2 linked regions of the Homo sapiens genome follow. The protein of the gene in region 1 interacts with the protein of each later gene in a pairwise test. Each region holds a gene or a part of one and is shown in the gene's direction. Other genes may lie near its edges.

Region 1 (3,251 bases):
GTATGGTATTGGATTTACCAACATGGTGGAAAGGACCACGCCCGGCAGCAAAGATCTCTCCAGGTAAGTACACAGCATTTGCTTTTATGGGTTGGAACCTTGAGTATGCTGGTGCCCCAAATATTCTAGGAACATCATATGTATCTAGTTCAAGCTGAGCTCAACAAATGTACAATATGCTCTTTCATTGAAAGCTGTCTGAATTTAGCATATTATAAATATTGTCATATTTATATTTTTGACTACTTTTTAATTCAATTTTAGTAAAGAATTTCGTGAAGGAGGACGTATTCTAGTACAGAAATTACAGAAATATCAGCCACGAATAGCAGTGTTTAATGGAAAATGTAAGATTTACTTTTAAATTTTTTTTTTCTTTGCTAACATTATGGGCAATGTAAATATGTTTGTATTTCATTTTAGGTATTTATGAAATTTTTAGTAAAGAAGTTTTTGGAGTAAAGGTTAAGAACTTGGAATTTGGGCTTCAGCCCCATAAGATTCCAGACACAGAAACTGTAAGTCCCTAAAATTGAATTTGTAAATCAGCTAAATGTGAATTTTTTTCTAGATAATTTCCTTATTTGTCCTATCCATTGTGATTTATACCATGCAAAACAATTACACTGTATTTTGTTGAATAATACCTATACATCAGCTTTAACTAATAGTTGTAAATTAATTCAAATACTATTAGGGTTTATTAGAAAGAAAAACATTTGTCAGCTAAATGTCTTGATGTTGTTATTCAGTGAAAATATTGAGAGGAACTGGCTCATATACTACATTCAGAATACATTTAATGGCATGTAGTTGTCAAATTCAAATGGTTTAGCCCTCGTACTGTTGTGAAACAAACATGGAAACACAGACATGATCCTGATTAGGAAAACCAGTTGCCCCATTTATATATCTTAGCTCAACTTCATTTTAGAGCCATATAAATAATACAACCCAGACAAGCCTCCAGCCAACCTAACTGGCATTCAATACTGTTGTCTTATACACAAAGTCATCATGAAATAACAGTGTTTTTCAAATTGTCCTCTCTACAGAGCTTCTGCAGGCATTTGGTTCCAATTTTGCTTCTTAGTTTTAGGTTTTATTTACAACTTTTAAAGAACAACACAGTGCACAGATTTACATGTTGTATATACAACATCTTAACTGATGGAGAAGCTAATTTGCTGCCAGGTTTTTGTGGAAACCTAAAAATGTTTCTGCCACCTAAATATATTTAAATTTCTCCTTTAAAATTGTTTTTGTTCATAATTTCTTATAAATATGCAATTGATGAGTTTTATTATAGCATTGGTTTTTGCTTAAATAAAGGCCCACCTTTGTCTGCTTGGTTAAAATGGTACAAATTCACTACCTGTAGTGAATTGTAGAGAAATTCCTGTAGAGTACTGTGTCATTCTCTGTTACATGCCATTTGGAGGCCGGGCGTGGTGGCTCATGCCTATAATCCCAGCACTTTGGGAGGCCGAGGCAGGCGGATCACCTGAGGTTAGGAGTTCGAGACCAGCCTGGCCAACATGGTGAAACCCCATCTCCACTAAAAAATACAAAAATTAGCCAGGCATGGTGGCATGCGCTGTAATCCCAGCTACGTAGGAGGCTGAGGCAGAAGAATCGCTTGAACCCAGGAGGCAGCTCATTAGGCGGAGGCTCATTATTTTTCACTTCCTGACTTGGTAATAAGTCAGTATTACAAATTCAACCTTAAAAGCAACTACTTTTATTGATTTTTACATATATTTATATGTAGTTAAGTATCAAGTTATTAACCCAAATAAAGACAAATATTCTAATCTCAATGAGTGAATTCAATAGAATTATAAGATTTCTGAAATTATAAAATGTTGTGATTCTAGCTCTGCTATGTTATGCCATCATCCAGTGCAAGATGTGCTCAGTTTCCTCGAGCCCAAGACAAAGTTCATTACTACATAAAACTGAAGGACTTAAGAGATCAGTTGAAAGGCATTGAACGAAATATGGACGTTCAAGAGGTGCAATATACATTTGACCTACAGCTTGCCCAAGGTATGTTACTGTCCTCATTCCTTTTATTCATTTTGTGTGTGTATATATACACATATATACTTACATATATATACACATATACATATATACATATACACATATACATATGTGTGCACATATATGCACACGTGTATATATACATGTGTATATATACATATATACACATAAGTATGTATGTCTATATACATATATGTGTGTATACACTTGTGTGCGTATACATATGTGTGTGTCTATATATAGACACATACACACACACACACACACACACACACACACACACACACACACATTACAGAAAGTATCTTATGGATTTAAAAGCAGGAAAAAAGAAAACAATTATATTCGCAGCCAGAGTGCTCTGATAATGAATATTAGTCACTGTTAAAATCTCCTTTTACCAAGGTCTTCCCTCTACTCTGGCACTTCTGCAGATAATTCACCTGCAGAGTGCCAGAGCAGAGGGATGTAAGAAATATTGTACCCTACGTAAAGTTGAATGTAAGCGGTTTTTACAGTTCTTATGTGTTTATTTAGTACATGCTATAAGTTTAAAAGATTAATAGAGATGTATCTCAGTGTATATGAATATTCAAGAAAAAGAATTGTTCATGATTTCTGAATAAAGCTACTTTTAAAATTGTTGTACAAAATCAGATTTAAATCCTTTTTACCTTCCTCACAGAGGATGCAAAGAAGATGGCTGTTAAGGAAGAAAAATATGATCCAGGTTATGAGGCAGCATATGGTGGTGCTTACGGAGAAAATCCATGCAGCAGTGAACCTTGTGGCTTCTCTTCAAATGGGCTAAGTATGGTTCCCTCCACATGTGTATTCCTTTCAAAGACGGTTTGGTCAGGATTGGGGGGAAAATTTTAATAGAAGGAGAGTAAATTATTGAAGAATGGGAATGATAATATGAAATTTTATTTAGTGACTAATAGTGAAAAATTGATGGTTATTTCACGTTGAATTACACAGACTTTTACAGTACATTTTCTTTTTTGTTTGTTTGTTTTTGAGACAGATTCTCGCTGTGTCACCCAGGCTAGAGTGCAGTGGCTCGATCTTGGCTCACTGCAAGCTCCCCCTCCTGGGTTCACACCATTCTCCTGCCTCAGCCTCCCGAGTAGCTGGGACTACAGGCATCCGCCACGATGCCTGGCTAATTTTTTTTGTATTTTTAATAGAGACAGGGTTTCACC
Region 2 (4,043 bases), on another chromosome or scaffold:
CTTTTATATTCCAAAATTTGAACCCTGGTTGCTGACAGACATCCTAGAGGATTACCTTCTTGTATGTTATTAAGAGTTACATATTGTGGGAATTATGGAAATTAAAAATGTGGTTTAGGAGAAGATAGGCTGAGGATTTTACATAAGAGGGTAGTTTTTAAACAAGGTAGTGTTTTTAAGAAATGTGTATTTTAGTATTCGTAAAGCCAGTTCTAGATTGTATTACTGATAAATGATCATTTAAGAGTTCATAAGTATGAATTCCATATTCCTTACTTGTCTCTAATTAGCAAACACTGAATTCCTGGTCTCTACCAAGTTGCTTAGTTACATAGGAAACTAGGGTACCCTCATCCTTGAATAATCTTTCTCTAAAAGATTACAAGGTTAATTTTCTCAATTAAAATCATAAATTTAAAATACTTTTATGTAATATCAGCTCTCTACCAGGTATAAAACTTGAAAACCTTTTCACAGGGAGAATGAAGTTGAAGAGGTAAAAGAGGAGGGTCCAAAAGAGATGACTTTGGATGAGTGGAAGGCTATTCAAAATAAGGACCGGGCAAAAGTAGAATTTAATATCCGAAAACCAAATGAAGGTGCTGATGGGCAGTGGAAGAAGGGATTTGTTCTTCATAAATCAAAGAGTGAAGAGGTAAAATTAAGTTTTGTCGTGTTTGAAAATGTTCAGATGTGACTTGAATTGTATTTATAATTTTTGTTTTAAAATTTCACATGGGTTATTTGTCTGTTAAAGCTTTACATAGGATCATTTGGGGCAGATAATTTGCTTTATAAGGAAAATAAACTGTATTATCACATATTCTAAGAAATTTAGTCCTTTGATCAATTTGTAATTATGTTTTATGTGGTAGAGTTACTTTTTCCTAAAAAGCTGTTAGTGGAGTATCTTGTAGTTATTGGTGTTCAGAAATATGATAGTTCTTTTCAAAGTTGTGGTTGTATTTTTGAAATCTTGCCAAACTGGGGATCATTAAAGGGCTGTGGTATTATGGTGTTAGGTTGAAATCTTGACATTTTCATATGGTTTAACCTAAAATGTAAGTGACTTCATTTAGAATTCAACTTTTGAAACTGTCTGCCTATACCATATATAATGGCCAGGACACTCAGTAAATGGCAATGTGCATTTTGTCTAAGGAATGACGACTTTAAAAACCAAAGTATATGTGGGTTTTACTTAAGAAACATGGAAACTAGTGAAAATACAGTTGACTTGTTGAACAACATGAGGATGCTAGGGGCACTGACCCCGCAGATCAATGCACATGTAACCTTTGACTCTCCCAAAACTTAACTACTAATAACCTGTTGACTGAAAGTCTTAGTGATAACATAACCAGTTAACACATTTTGTATGTTGCGTATTATATACTGTGTTTTTACAGTAAAGTAAGCTAAAGAAAATGTTGAGAAAATATATTTACTGTTCATTAAGTGGAACTGGATCATCACAAAGGTCTTTATTTTGGATAGGAAGAAAAGGGATTGGGCTTGCTTGTCTCAAGACTGACAGAGGCAGAATGTTCAAAGCCACGTTGTTCAAGGGTCAACTGTATTGGAGAAAGTCACATTGATGGCTTTTGATTTGGTAGCTTCCGTTTAAGCTTTGGGGTGTGTTCTTAGAGGAATGTTTCAGTGCGGCTTCCTGTTTGGCTTTAAAAACTCATACAAGCCCTAACTATATTATTTCTTCTCCTAAATTCATTTTCTCTATCAGCTTCCTTTAACCTTTTGACATTTGTGTTTGATTTATTCATATCATAAATTGGGCTGTGCCAGAAATCCAGACTGAGTTTTATCATCCTAAGGTAAAGTTAAATTAAAATATTGTGAGGGCAAACCCTTTCAATAAGGTATTAGTTATTTTTATTTTTTTTTTTTGAGACAGAATCTGGCTCTGTCGCCCAGGCTGGAATGCAGTGGCACCATCTCTGCTTACCGCAACCTCCACCTCCCGGATTCAAACAGTTCTTGTGTCTCAACCTCCTCAGTAGCTGGGATTACGGACACTCGCCACCATGCCCGGATAATGTTTGTGTTTTTAGTAGAGATGAGGTTTCATCATGTTGGCCAGGCTGGTCTCAAACTCCTGGCCTCAGTGATCCCCGCCTGCCTCAGCCTCCCAAAGTGCTGGGATTATAGGCGTGTGCCACCATGCCCAGCCAATAAGCATAATTTTTTAAACTGCAAAATGGCTATAAGACAAACTTGGAAACATTTTAAAATAAAATGGAGGTTAAAAAGATTAAAAGTTTTTTTAGGTTTAGAGATGATTTTTAACATTTACTTCATATGAGTAGTAAATGAGGACATTGTCTTTTTTAAGTCCTGTAGAAAAAAAACTGCATTAGAACACGTGGTTTCAGCCAGGCGCAGTGGCTCACACCTGTAATCCCAGCACTTTTGGGAGACTGAGGCGGGCGGATCACCTGAGGTCGGGAGTTCAAGACCAGTCTGACCAACATGGAGAAACCCCGTCTCTACTAAAGATACAAAATTAGCCTGGTGTGGTGGTGCATGCCTGTAATCCCAGCTACTCAGGAGGCTGAGGCAGGAGAATCACTTTAACACAGGAGGCAGAGGTTGCAGTGAGCTGAGATCACACCACTGCACTCCAGCCTGGGCAACAGAGCAAGACTGTCTCAAAAAAAAAAAAAAAAAAAAAAAACAACACTTTAACTTTCACATGTCTTCATTCTCGTGACAAATGTGAGGTAGTTAAGGGGAAGGAAGAAACTATTTACAAATGGAGAACTGTGTTACCGTGTTATTGACAGAGCTCAGAGTTTCTGTTTTCTGCTCCTCATTGTCTGAGTGCTCTAGAAAAAAGGTCGGACACAGTGGCTTACACCTGTAATCCCAGCACTTCGGGAGGCTGAGGTGGGCAGATTGTTGAGTTAAAAGTTTGAGACCAGCCTGGGTAACATGGCAAAACCCTGTTTCTACAAAAAATATAAAAATTATCTGGATGTGGTTGCGTGCACCTGTGGTCTCAGTTACCTGGGAGGCTGAGGCGGGAGAGGATCACTTGAGCCCAGGAGGCAGAGGTTGCAGTGAGCCAAGATAGCATCACTGCATTCCAACCTAGTTGACAGAGCAAGACTGTTTCAAAAAAAGGAAAAAAGAAAAAAAAAAAGGATCCCCCTGCCCTGACTTTATCCCAGTACAGTTTCTTGGTATCTGCAGGGGATTCGTTCCAGGACCCAGAGATATTAAAATTTTCAGATGCTCATGTCCATTATATAAAATGGCATAGTATCTGCATATAGCCTAAACACGTTTTCCCTATACTTTATTTTTTATTGTTTCTATTTTTTAATTTAAAATATAGAACAATTTACAGTTTTGCGTGTCATCCTTGTGGGGATCATGCTAATAATCTTTGTATTGTTCCACTTTTAGTATATATGCTGCCAAAGTGAGCACTCCCTCATACACTTTATTTTGAGACAAGGTCTTGCTCTGTCATGTAGGCTGGAATGCAGTAGCATGGTCACAGCTTACTGCAGCCTCAACCTCCCCGTGCTCAAGCGATCCTTCTAGCTCAGCCTCCTGAGTAGCTGGAACTACACACCTGTGCCAACTCCTGGACTCAAGCAGCCCTTCTGCCTATGCCTCCCAGAGTGCTGGGATTACAAGTGTCAGCCACCACACCTGGCCTACTTTTTATTGTTATATGGTTGGTTGGTTTTATTTTTTTCTGAATATTTTCGATCTGTGGTTTGCAATAAATTGAAAGCATTGGTTTGAAATAGCAAACATTTAAAAATCACACAATTAGTATATATAATTGATTCTAATTTGCTGGTGTTTTGTGAATTTGTTTTTATGTTTCTAGCCTCCTTTAAAATTTGTATTAGAACATTCTATTGCCTTACAGTGTGTTGGTTTGGTACAAAGGAGTGACATTTAATACTAGTATGAGTTGATGTAAGGGGTGAAAACATGGATAAAAACACAAAAATTTATTTGTACTTTAAAGGCTAGTTATTAACAGCTGTAATATTTTAAGTTGAGTC

The links.
Region 2: the proteins of TDG (region 1) and SERBP1 interact in a two-hybrid assay, tested with the Homo sapiens proteins (one study listed by BioGRID).

What each region holds. Positions count from the first base shown.
Region 1 is NC_000012.12:103,982,872-103,986,122, forward strand, and holds part of TDG (G/T mismatch-specific thymine DNA glycosylase), read left to right. Parts: coding exon 1-63; intron 64-264; coding exon 265-347; intron 348-423; coding exon 424-518; intron 519-1,877; coding exon 1,878-2,049; intron 2,050-2,731; coding exon 2,732-2,857; intron 2,858-3,251. UniProt on the Homo sapiens protein: DNA glycosylase that plays a key role in active DNA demethylation: specifically recognizes and binds 5-formylcytosine (5fC) and 5-carboxylcytosine (5caC) in the context of CpG sites and mediates their excision through base-excision repair (BER) to install an unmethylated cytosine.
Region 2 is NC_000001.11:67,416,621-67,420,663, reverse strand, and holds part of SERBP1 (SERPINE1 mRNA-binding protein 1), read left to right. Parts: intron 1-477; coding exon 478-655; intron 656-4,043. UniProt on the Homo sapiens protein: Ribosome-binding protein that promotes ribosome hibernation, a process during which ribosomes are stabilized in an inactive state and preserved from proteasomal degradation.